Linked DNA regions of Homo sapiens: regions 1, 3 and 4 are each reported to be linked to region 2. The links are microRNA targets in miRTarBase. Many come from high-throughput screens and were not tested one by one. Region 2 holds a microRNA gene; each other region holds the end of a gene's coding sequence. Distances are from middle to middle.
The links. Region 2 holds the annotated microRNA hsa-miR-561-3p (CAAAGUUUAAGAUCCUUGAAGU, at 1,567-1,588, opposite strand). A microRNA usually pairs through its seed, bases 2 to 8, with sites in the 3' UTR of a target mRNA and lowers its output. Matches are read on the target gene's strand: a 7mer-m8 pairs with bases 2 to 8, a 7mer-A1 pairs with bases 2 to 7 and ends in A, and an 8mer does both.

Region 1 (3,184 bases), 46 Mb from region 2:
GGCACACAGTTCCAACACCAGAACAGAGAATTTGGGAAGATAATTGCTCTGAAACAGAACTGGCCTCCCTGTGTCTATTAGAAAACATTTCCAAAGCTCACGGAGGGAGGCCAACTTCCCCTATGGGAAACCCATTCACTCGCCAAAGGGCAGAAGGCATCATAAATCACCCATTGATACATTGGTGGGGGGCTCCCTGTCCCCCTGGTGACCACTCCAAGGTGATTTGATCTGTGCTTCCTCTGTTGGGTCAGAGACGAAACGGGCTATTATTAGGTCAAACATTACAGAAATCAACTGAGACTCTTAACTAGTAGTTGATACACCACAGGGCTTTACTTTACTGCACAATTACTAACAGTTGATTGCACCCTTAAGTATTGATTATGCAAAAAACAAAATCATCTCGCATCAGTTTTAAAGCATGACAGGGTTTGAACAGTGATCTTGAACCTAAGTATTGTTATCATGAGAAGGTTACAGTATTTGGCATCTGCAATGTCACAAAATAAATATATTATTCTCTCAATAGTGTGGAACTACCAAAATGTCAAAGTGCTTAAGAAATTGTCGCATGTGAAGAAAATAAAGAAAGATGGATTTTTTTTTTAATAATTCTATACAGAATCTTCAGATGATGGGACCAGCCCATTTAGAAATCAGTGGATATGCTGTCGATATGTAAACTGAAATCTTGCAGGCTTTTCAACACTGCTTAGCTAGACTTTCTCTACTGAGTTTCTACAAAAAGACCAGCATTGGAGGGGTACCAAATACACCGACAAAAGAGAAAAAGCAGATGGGCTGCTAGGTTTCTGCTTTTAAAAAATTTCATATAAGAATTGGGTTTCAAGCAGGAAGCCAGAACTTCTGCCTCTGGTTCTTAAATTAACATTCGGTGTGTAATGGACAATAGGCAGGGACTCATAATTTGACTAACTCACATGCTCAAGCATGATCGTGTCCAATTTCTACAGGCCTCCTTTGTAAAGAAATGTGTAACAATGGGGGGAAAGTCATAATTCTACCTGAAAACATGGATTGTAAGAGGAAATAAAAAAATCAAACAGTATGTTTTAAGTTTCCCTTTTGATACTGTGTTTCAGGGTAAGTGACAGCTTCTGCAAACCAAGACTCAGTCCTGATTATAAAGGATTTTTAAAATTACATTATTAAAAATATGTATTTATTCTTCTTTCACTTTATCTATTTTCCAAAGCCTCTTTCAAGTAAACTGTGAAGTGCCTGAGTACCAGTGACCATGACGTCACACTTTCTTTTATCTCAAGCACTCATTGTTGTTTGCATTTGCCCAAAGTGCTGGCTGGCTCCGAAGGCCAGTTCCCACAAGAATGAATTCGGAAAGACTTCATCCTTGTGTTTTTCCTTCTCTTTTAATTCCATGCAACGAGGTCAGCTTTTGCAACAAGGTGGGGTTTTATTTTTTTGGTGCATGACATCAAATACTCTAACGAGACATTTTTAATGAAAGACTTAAACCAGATAGGCCACAATGAACCAAATTAGAAATCTGAACATGTCACCACTTGCAGCATAAAGGAATATAAAAGGGCAGAGCAAAGTCTTTTTTCCTAAGGTGAATATTTCTAAGGTAAGTATTCATTTGTAAAAGTTTTTTTTTTTCATCATGTCTGAAAACCCATTATCACGCGGTTAGTATTACAAGAGACATCCCTTGGTTAAAAAAAAAAATACCATCTTGCAATTCAGCACACACCTGCAGCTGGTGTGCTCATCCAAACCAATCAGTAGGCTAAGAGAATTTAAAATTCCATACATATGAGTCTAGGTATTAATGCCGATTACACAGTACACAGTACAGAGGGAGGTCCCTATATCCACACACACACACACCCCATCCAGCATTTACACCAAAAGCCTTACCCTTTAAACACCTTTAACTATCCTGCAAACAGTAAATGCATCATTGGCCACCACCTCCAATAGTTCGTCTTTTTTTTTTTTTATTTTTTTTATTTTTATTGGTCTCTTTGTGTGATAATGACCTACACATGGACAGGGTCCAAACCATCTGGAAGATGTCTGATTCCAGGCTGAAAAGCAGTTCTCAACAAAACTGGTCTTCTGCAGCCACCACAAAGCACCAGGAAAAGGGCACCTCCGCGGCCATCCCCAGCCAGGCCAGCACAGCGCTCCGTGCCCGCTGAACCGTCCCAGGCAGTCCTCTGATGACCCAAACCACCACCACCTTTGGGCCCAGAGCAGGACAAATGAAATTTCAACAGGGGCCTGCCCTGTGACCGAAAATTACTCAGCTTCACAGCCCCTGAATGCAAGGAGAGGTGGTCCCCCCAGAACCAACATGCCCCCCAAGGTGGGTACGCCCACGGTTCTGGGAAATGCATACCTCAGGTAATTCACAGGTGCGATCCCCCAGTGGAGGCGGGGCAGCCTGAACTTCTGGCCCTGCAGGAGTGGGAAGAAATCGCTTTTGTCTTTCCGACAACTGAGCCTTCCACCTGGGGCTGGGAGGGCGGACAGCAGGACCGGCTCTTCCACTCCCCACCGCGGCCCCCCGACCTGGTCAGTAGCTCTGGCGTTCAGACAAAAGGTCCCCTGAGCTGGGGGTGGGGGGCAGGTCGAGAGTAGGCCGGTAAATCAGACTTCGCAGCTCCTTAAGTCACCAGTCCTGCATTTGGGTGCAGAGATTCCGTTTTAAAAATTCGAAGCATCGCTTTGGTTCGCTCTTTGTTCGCGGGCGCGGGTTCTCGCTCATCCATCCATCCATCCATCCAACCATCCATCCATCCATTCATTCTTTCTTGACGCACTCGCTCGCTCCCCGGTCGCTCCGGGCGCATTACCGCTTCTTCTTCTGCTTGAGGGACTTCCTGCGTTTCAGGATCATCTCATAGAGCTTGTCCATGCCCTCGGTGAGGCCCTCGCCGATGATGGCGCACGCCGGCTGGACGTGATAGGTGGTGGCCGGGATAAGCTCGTGCAGCGCCAGCTGCTTCTCAATCTCTGCCACCGGCAGCGACTTGGGCAGGTCCTGCTTGTTGGCGATGACCAGCAGCGGCGTGCCCTGGTTCTCGGCGAACTTGGTCACCTTGTGCAGCTCCGTCTTGGCCTCCTCCAGCCGGTCCACGTCCACCGAGTCCACCACGTAGATGATGCCGTCCGTGCAGCGGCTGTAGGACTT
Region 2 (3,184 bases):
CTGCTCTGTAACCGTCCTTCCCACCAAAGCTTCTCACCCCGCCACTCCAGCTCATACCCCTGCTGTCTTTAAAATAGCCAGTTGGAATTATCTTAGACTGTGCGGTCCAACCCTACCCAATAGGGGAAAAACAAGCAGTAGGGACTAGCTGCATTAATAGTAAGATCCCCTTCTCCTCCCTTGTCTGGTGTGCTCTTGCCATTGCTCCATCCGTGAGAGGCACCCTTTTATAGAAGTAAATTGCCTTGCTGAGCAAACTTTTGCCTGAGTGCTATATTCACTTGGCAGCACCGAGCATTTACTTCCAACAACATCAAGTCTAAAATGTTGTTCTCTAAAACCTCATCTGTACTACTCTAGAAAATTTTATTTTTCCAAATTGATCATGAATTTCCTAGTCTGCTTAATGTAATCAGCTAAACCTATGATAACTCAGATTTTACAAATTTAGTAGTTCTTCCTTTAAAATGACTAAAGACATTAGCAATATGAGACCTCTTACTGATTTACTGCTAAGAAGCTTAAAGGTTTTTCTCCTACATATCCAGTCATGGTGATGCATTAAAACAGAAAAAATAATTCATAAAAATTTAAAGCAATAGCCATTGTTACTCTAAAACAATGCTATTTTATAAATCTAAAATACCAATAGACTTTTGCCATTTCATATTGCATTTACGTAATTTCAAATAAAATTTGTTTACTCAAATGTGACTCCTTAAAAATTCTCTCAAACTATATTCTGAGATACTACAATCCATAAACACCCTCTAATTATATTTAATTAACATATTCAGCATAGAGATAAATTGCTTTGAAATTAATTCAGTTATGCAATTGTTCTTTCTAATCAGCCAAACTTTCTCTGTATTTATTTGCACTACTAGTAAAGTTCAGTGTTTATGTTATTGGACATCTTTATGACTATAATAACACACATCATCAAGGAAGTAAAAGGAGAGTTTGATCATCAACCAAAGTCCTTTATTACTACACAGTTCCTCAAAGCAGACAAAAATAAAATAAATTACAGAGCATAACATGTAGTTTGACCTTCAAAGATACTTTACAAAATACTGTTTCTTAAAACTCTCATTAGTACTTATAACCCTATGTTTTAATTCACCTAGGTTGAAATCTGGGTAAATGAACCTATTTGCTATTAAAATTTTACTTAAAACATGGTATCTCTTGATGGTTATAAATGGCTATGAAAAAAATTGAGAAGCTAAAATCACATTTATTCTCTTATTTCAATTTTTTATCCCAAATTTGCACGTTTGCTACCATACTACAAATGTTCTGTTTGATTTTTTTTGGCTAAAATTATATTTAAAATTGATATTATCTAATTTAAATACAAACCAAATGAGAACAATAGTTATCACCTCATGAAATATTATACAGCTATAAACAGGCAAATCATTAATGATTCAGTCAGTAGATTATGTATGCTCTGAAATGATTGTCTTTATTTCTATAAGAGGGTAGACTGAAGACTGAGCCCACAGTATTCAGTCTCCTCTCTTATAGAAATAAGGATAGCCATCCATGGTTCCCCCAGGAACTTCAAGGATCTTAAACTTTGCCTTTGTAGCTCTGGCAAAGTTTAAGATCCTTGATGTTCCTGGAGGACTGGTGGATGAAGTTTCAAGAAATGGATCAACTGTAACACCTAATATTAAGAAAAAGCTGTACCATACCAGGAAAACACTACATTTGTATAAAATTCTCACTTCACAATACCTGATAAACTTATCAGTAGTATCTAACTTCTAAGTAGTGAATTTACCTTCTTACAGTAGTTAACTGTACATGTGCTTGTGTTCTACTTAAGAAGAGTAGAAAGGGCTTCCATGAGTATGCCATCATTAGAGCCTACAACAAAGAATGTAGGTAGAAGATCTTGCCAACTATTTTTCTCTTCTTTCGGAGGTATAAATAGAAGTCTAAAAACACTTTTAGAATTTGGAAAAAAGAAAAAAAAAAGGATTTCTAGGATTTCTAGCAATACTTATCTGGGAAACATTTTTAATTAGTTGTTAAAATTGGGCTCAAAAATATCAATTAACTGAAGCTATTTTTCCCTACAGAAAAACTATAGCACAAATAGAGAAACATCAAAGAATATATATGTATCATAAGTATGCACACACAGAAAGGGAGAAAGAAATGGAGACAGAGAGAGAGACAGACAAAGAGAGAGAGAACGACAGAGACAGAGAGACAGAGAGAAAGTAGTCCCCCAAAATATGGAAGTTTCTAAGGTCTATTCTGAACTTCTTCATCAGGAGGTATATGATACAGCTGATGTATAGGTACATTTATATAATGTTAATAGCAAAAAACAAACATGAAATAAAGGCAGGTATTGATATCTAGATGCACTCTCTTAGTTGCATCCTAGAAAATACATACAAGGCTATTCAAAACTTCCTTTAAAAAGCCATATTAATCTTTGCAATTTAGCACAAAATATACTGAAAATCTTAATTTCTATATAAGTTAACTTACTTATTCATATTATGTGTGCAAATTAGGGCAGCCTTTTCAAAACTATTTTTAAGTATACTACACTGAAAGACAAAACTAATTTCAAATTCGCCATAACTATACCATTTCAATGTAAACAGAAAATTGACACTTACTATCCCACACAATATTTGAGTCAATTAACTGTCCTCTGATGACAATCATGCATGGTAAGCATCATTAGAGTGGCTGAAAACATTTCTTAGGCATAAAACAAACAAAAAACTCGCAAATAACAAGGGCCTGAAAACAGTATAAGCATTGTTTTCTAAGTCTTACTCTGGAACAATGACTTTTAGCCATTCTCTTTAAAAATAAAGGCCTGATTTCAATTTCATATCCCCAGTATTTGAAAGTGAAGCGATTTCTCCATTCAAAGTTATACCATTTTTTCCTCTTCCAATCTGAGTATATTTTATGCTCTTATGGGAAAAAGCTTAAGTTTCCTGATCTCTAAATGCATTAAGGCAAACAATATTAGATCCACCAGCCTCTAATACGTTTAGGGACCAGGGCTCATGGCAGTTATGCAGTTAGCTTCTGTAACTATCTTTGAATTCATTATTATACTGAAATAAAATAACTTTTTTTATTCTTTAGAGGTTTTAGAAAACAAATTGCAATATCGCGAATTGAATCACAAATACATCAC
Region 3 (3,184 bases), not on the chromosome of region 2:
TGCCATCATGCATTCGTAAGGGCAGTGAGTGGGAGAAAAACCAGTCTCGATGCAGCTTTTAATTCAGTAGTTGCTCAACAAACCCTTTCTGAGGATGTTCTCGGTTTACAGCCACGGTGGAGTTTGACCTTGTTTCCCTTCATTTTAGGCAGGAAGAAGCTCCGACTGTTTGAATACCTTCACGAATCCCTGTATAATCCGGAGATGGCATCTTGTATTCAGTGGGTAGATAAAACCAAAGGCATCTTTCAGTTTGTATCAAAAAACAAAGAAAAACTTGCCGAGCTTTGGGGGAAAAGAAAAGGCAACAGGAAGACCATGACTTACCAGAAAATGGCCAGGGCACTCAGAAATTACGGAAGAAGTGGGGAAATTACCAAAATCCGGAGGAAGCTGACTTACCAGTTCAGTGAGGCCATTCTCCAAAGACTCTCTCCATCCTATTTCCTGGGGAAAGAGATCTTCTATTCACAGTGTGTTCAACCTGATCAAGAATATCTCAGTTTAAATAACTGGAATGCAAATTATAATTATACATATGCCAATTACCATGAGCTAAATCACCATGATTGCTAAATATACTTTCATATTTCATGGTTTACTGGCATCGGAAATCTCTACAAGTTTTAATGATTTCTCCCTCCCTCTCTTTTTTTCCTCCTCTGAAGAAATTTAGGATTTTTCTCTTAAAGCAAATACTAAAGAGGAAAAAAAATTAACTTTATTGTTGCTTTTATCAAAGAGTATGTAATCTATACTAACTTGTTGGGAAATTCTGCCAATGAACAACTTTTTTATAATACTTTGTGAAGATTCAATGAACAACTTTATTGTTTCAAATGATCAAGCCCATTTGAAAGTATAGACTAAGGTCCTTGCTCTGCTCTTACTGTTCTCTCTCTATTAAAATTTTTATTTTTTTATTTTATTATTTTTTAAAGATGTCTCAGCCAAGATAATTTTTTATTTTTATGGATTTAGGAGTACAAGTGCAGTTTTGTTGCTTTGATATATTGCATAGTGGTGAAATATGCATCCTCATCACCAGAATAGTGAACACTGTACCCAATAGGTAGGATTTCATCCCTCATCCCCCTGGCATCCTCCCACCTTTCAGAGCCTCCAGTGTCCATTACTCCATTCTGTATGACCATTGCTAAGCTCCCAACTATACCCATTTTATTTTATTTTAAAAATTGTTTTCTTTTGCTGCATACTTCAATGGATGCAAAGTCTTTTTCTTTTTTCTTTTTTTCTTTTCTTTTCACAGACGATGACTTCTTTTTTTGTTTGTTTGTTTGTTTTTGGCTGCTAACTCCCAAGCACAACACTGACAGTGACTTATATTTTTAATTTTTTTTTTTTTTTTTTTTTTTGAGACGGAGTCTCGCTCTGTCGCCCAGGCTGGAGTGCTGTGGCGCAATCTCGGCTCAGTGCAAGCTCCGCCTCCTGGGTTCATGCCATTCTCCTGCCTCAGCCTCCCGAGTAGCTGGGAGTACAGGTGCCCGCCACCACGCCCGGCTGATTTTTTTGTATTTTTAGTAGAGACGGGGTTTCACTGTGTTAACCAGGATGGTCTCGATCTCCTGACCTCATGATCCGCCCGCCTCGGCCTCCCAAAGTGCTGGGATTACAGGCGTGAGTCACCGCGCCCGGCTATTTTTAATTTTTTTAAGAGGCAAAGCCTACCTCTGAAGCTCTCTCTTTTTTTCTTTTCACACTTCAATAAGCTGGTTTAAATTCTTGCTATTCTCTATGCAACCACCTTCTTCTAGATTAACAGTGCCAGTACAGATGATTTGATTTATATATTGATTTCAGCATTTTCTTGTCATGTACTCAGGTGAGAAAATTCACACTTTTATATGATGGCTTTACAAAAAAATTTTGTAAATGACTGCATATGATAAAGCCTTTGTGCCAAAATGGGTTCATAGCTTTAAAAACATCACTAGAAATGTCTGTTCAGCTTCCTTACACATTTTTTTATTTCCTTCTCTTTTGATCTTACCCATTTTTACAACTTAAAGCTTTTTTTTTTTTTTTTTTTTTGAGACAGGGTCTCACTCTGTCACCTATGCTCAGGTGCAGTGACACAAACATGGATGAAGCCCAGCTAATTTTTTTTTTTTTTTTTTGTAGAGACTGTTTTGCCATGTTGCCCAGGCTGGTCTCTAACTCCTGGGCTCAGGTGATCTGCCCACCTTGGCCTTCAGAAGTGCTAGGATTACAGGTGTGAGCCACCGAGCTGGCCCCAAAACTTTTTTAATGTTTAAGTTTTACCACTGTACTAAGGAGGAGTTACCCATTTTTTTAATTGCCTTTTTTCTTCCTTCTTATTAGGGAGGGGTAAGGAAGAAGACTTTGTCAGCAGAAAGCAGGTCTTAATTGCTTTTTTGTTTGTTTGTTTTGTTGCTATTGAGTTGTTTGAGTTCCTTATATGTATTGGATATTAAACCCTTGTCAGATGTCTGGCTTGCAAATGTTTTCTCCCATTCCATAGGCTGTCTCTTTACTCTGGTGATTATTTCCTTTGCTGTGCAGAAGCTTTTTAGTTTGTTTGTTTTAGCTACACGTCATGAACTAAGAAGCTTTTTAGTTTGATGTGATACCATTTGTCTATATTTAATTTTGTTGTCCATGCTTTCGGGATCAAATCCAAAATATCACTACCCACACCAATGTCTTATATGTTTCCCCTATGTTTTCTTTCTTTCTTTTCTTTCTTTCTCTCTCTCTCTTTCTTTCTTTCTTCTTGTAATCATTAGAGAAATGCAAATTAAAACCACAATAAGATATAATCTCTCACCTGTCACAACGTCTTAAAATGTTTATTATTATGTTTTTAATCATCCTGTACTTTATTTCAAAACAATGTTTTCAAATGAAGACACAAAAGATAAGTGTTGGTAAGGATGTAGAGCAAAGGAAACACTTGTACACTGTTGGTGGAAATGTAAATTGGTGTAGCCATTATGGAAAATGGTATGGAAATTCCACCCCCCCCCGAAAAAAAACTAAAAATAGAATTATATGATCTAGAAATCCCACTTCAGTGTATTAATGCAAAAGACTCGAAATCAGTTTGTGGAAGGGATATCTGCATTCCTATGTTCATTGCAACACTACGCACAATAGCCAAGTTAGGGAATCAATCTCTGTCTATCAACAGATGAATGGATTA
Region 4 (3,184 bases), not on the chromosome of region 2:
GAAAAATTTCTACTTATGATTTACCGGCTAAATTAAAACAGAAAAGCTTATGTGGGACCTTGCTCTATGGGCATTACACTGACAGAATTAGATAGATGGCATTCCTGTAAGACTGTGCCTCCAAATTGGGATCTCAATCAGTTAATATTTACAACTATTTGGAGCAGGAGACTAAATCTCCAAAGCTGAATTGGAAGTTACTTAAGATCCTAAACAATCAGCTGGGGGAAGGGTTGACAGTAGGGATAGTTTGGATTTTGAGGGGAGGGGATGATGGGAAAGCAGAGGGCAGACACCACAATAATTCTGCATTTTTGAACAATGGACCATGAGTTGAGTATCTTCTCCTGTCGTTACACTGGAAAGCTTATTATTTAAGGCTCTAGATACATACTGCCAAATTACTTTCTAAAAGTACACAGGAAAGCCTGTCTTTCTTTCTATGTTAAGTCCTGCTACTTAGGACACTTATTACAATTCGCCAAAAACATTAATTTGCATTTCTTAGGTTACTAGAGGTTGAACCTTTAGAAACTGCCATTTATCTCTTCTGTGAACTACCCATATTTTCTCTCCTTTTCTACTGTTTTTCTTAATATAAAAGTAGTAATAACTGCTGTTACCATTTTAAACCTTATTATTCATTTCCTTGGAGACTATTACTTTGTTTATGAAGTGTTTTTCCAGCCCCAGAATCAAAATGGAATCTATTTTCACAAAAATCCCATTTCTAAGACTAGTTTTTCTCCACCTGTATTAAATATCACATGTCACAGTTAGCACTGGAGGGGCACAGCCAGCAAACCTTTTCGGTTAACAGTCCAACAGTGAAGTTTCACATTCCATTAAGTATCTCACCTGTAGCAGCTCTACTTGGAATCTTACTACACATCCTTAGGGTTGCTTACTCAAGCCTATGTACTTAGTTCCTTGATTTATAATGTTATTCATTAACATTTTGTTCAATGTCTTGCAGCACAACTAGAATAGAAAATATTTGGCAATCTCATGTACATCCCAATTTTATGCCTTGTTTGTTTGTGGCTAATCTGATTAAATTTTTACTTCAAATAAGTCTTTTAACACGGAGAACTAACTACTGGTTCTCATTAACTCTGATTAGCTAGCTGGCTACAGATGCAGTGCATGTTAATTTCTACAGGCACCTTTCTGAATTCAAGTAAAAGTTTTGGTAGACAAGGATTTCCTACTTAAGTATCACTAACATAATATGAATATTGAGTACAAATATTGCTCACTATTTTTGCATTCTTTAAATTGTTTTACTTTGAAAATTTAAGAACTATCAGTAAGTCATTATTAACAGGTCTTTAAGGAGTATTTTGAACTGTGAAAATACAAATCTAGTCAAATTTTGAACACATATAGAGCCAAATATTTCAACAAAACTGCAGTTTAATTTCAGAAAATGTTAAAATATATATTTATACATCAATTTCTGACATACACTTAATGTGTTAGTATACACAAAATGATGCTTTCTTTTGAAACTGTATTTATGAAATGTACATTTTAATTTAAATACTCAGTATACACTGCACTTAATCTGCATGTTGCATTTATTAAATACATTAAAATCTGCAATGTAACAAAACGTTTTCTGCATACGAAATTCAAAACACCATTTTAAATGAACAAAAGATGGCTCACTTTTTTTTTTTTTTTTTTTTACAACTAGTGTATTGTACACTAGCTCAGCTCCACCAAACTACCTGTTCGTTCTCTTTTATTTGACATTGTTCACAGACTAGTACATATTACAATAAGAGTGCTGGATAAAAACATGAGGTACGAAAGTGGTTCAAAGATTATAGGTCATGCAGATCATGCTAGACAGTAAAGAAAATTGTGACTGAGAAAACACTAAATAAAAATACATAAAGAATGTGCATTATAAAAAAAAAAAAAGACAAAAAAAAAAAAACAACAAAAAAAAACCAAACTCCATTACACAGCTTTGCTTCTTTGGTTACAAAGTAGGTTGAACAATTTCACAGCTTTTTATTCCCACCCGAAAAAAAAGTCATACGAAATGTTGAAAAGCAGAGGAATCGTGGCAATTTCTCTTAGAAAGTAGAAACAAATGAACAAAGTTTTCTTCATCAAAATAGCCCAATTATTTATCATATCACAATAACTGGTGACTACCTGTACAGTTGCACTATGTTCTTCATACTTACACTATACAAAATTTACATTCAAGCTGGGTCTTTACTACTGAAAATAAATACCATAAGTAAATTGCCATTAGTGTTAGAAATATGCCAGGATTCTTTTGTTCAATTATTGCCTAAACGTTTTATCTATTAAATGCAATCCTGTCTTTCACTTCCTTTACTGATACTTATAATTATTCAAAAAAATTAAAAAAGTTCTGTGACATTGTTCATGTACATTATGAAAATAGCAGCCCTGTAATAAATAAAACACAAATAAATGAAAACTTATGTAGGCAAATGTTACTGAATCAGAAAGAAAAGTGGCTCTTTAGATGAACTGTTATTTATAATGTGATAGGAAGGCTCAGGGTAAATCCATGGGTAATAGGAAACATGGGAGAGCCACCAAAACTCTTAAAGACCCCACTCATGCGCACCAGGTAAAATGCAGACTTTGCTCGCTTTAATAAACCCCATCTATTATTCTCCTTGTGTACTGATGACATAGAACTGGACATCAACAGCGCTGCATGACATCTCAGAGAGAGGAAAAGCTCTTGTAGAATGATTGTCTAATACTGAAAAGGCCAAACACACAACCAAAGCATGGCTACTTGCTTTCGTATAAAGTGGAAAGAACACCAGTGGCACACAAGGATAGATTGCTTTCAGTTTTTTTCTTAATGAGGCTTAAGAAAGCTTTATGCTGAGGAGACATTCGGCTGCTGTGGAGGTTGCGTTGGCTGCGGAGGCTGTGCTATCACTGCTTGCTGTTGAGAAGTGCTACCAGGATTGGCCTGTTGGGTTGGGAGTTGGGATAATTGATCATTGCTTGAAAGAGATTTTAACAGTGCATTTTCTCGTTCAAGTAAAGAGTTTCTTTCAACTAATTCTTTTATTTGTTCCTTTAAAACTTCCACTTCTTCTCTTACTGCATACATCAAATGGCTTTTCACCAGATCCTGTGAAAAACAAAATTAGGAATGTCAAAAGAGTGAAAAGAT

Region 1: miRTarBase lists ARL4C as a target of hsa-miR-561-3p. Seed matches in the 3' UTR shown: 7mer-m8 at 1,630-1,636.
Region 3: miRTarBase lists SPIC as a target of hsa-miR-561-3p. Seed matches in the 3' UTR shown: 7mer-A1 at 718-724.
Region 4: miRTarBase lists TSC22D2 as a target of hsa-miR-561-3p. Seed matches in the 3' UTR shown: 7mer-m8 at 2,111-2,117 and 7mer-m8 at 1,184-1,190.

The regions. Positions count from the first base shown.
Region 1 is chr2:234,493,166-234,496,349 of GRCh38, forward strand. ARL4C (ARF like GTPase 4C) reads right to left here. Exons shown (of 2, transcript NM_001282431.2): 1 at 2,847-3,184; 2 at 1-2,671. The coding sequence ends at 2,641. Among named protein-coding and RNA genes, the nearest start is that of ARL4C, 2.3 kb to the right of the region's middle.
Region 2 is chr2:188,295,956-188,299,139 of GRCh38, reverse strand. MIR561 (microRNA 561) reads right to left here and starts at 1,648; the gene lies at 1,552-1,648. The region is part of intron 1 of GULP1 (GULP PTB domain containing engulfment adaptor 1); the gene reads right to left. RefSeq lists enhancers at 1-198, 1-528.
Region 3 is chr12:101,486,196-101,489,379 of GRCh38, forward strand. It overlaps SPIC (Spi-C transcription factor), which reads left to right. Exons shown (of 6, transcript NM_152323.3): 6 at 149-802. The coding sequence ends at 576. Among named protein-coding and RNA genes, the nearest start is that of SPIC, 12 kb to the left of the region's middle.
Region 4 is chr3:150,458,334-150,461,517 of GRCh38, reverse strand. It overlaps TSC22D2 (TSC22 domain family member 2), which reads right to left. Exons shown (of 3, transcript NM_001303264.2): 3 at 1-3,142. The coding sequence ends at 2,882. Among named protein-coding and RNA genes, the nearest start is that of TSC22D2, 52 kb to the right of the region's middle.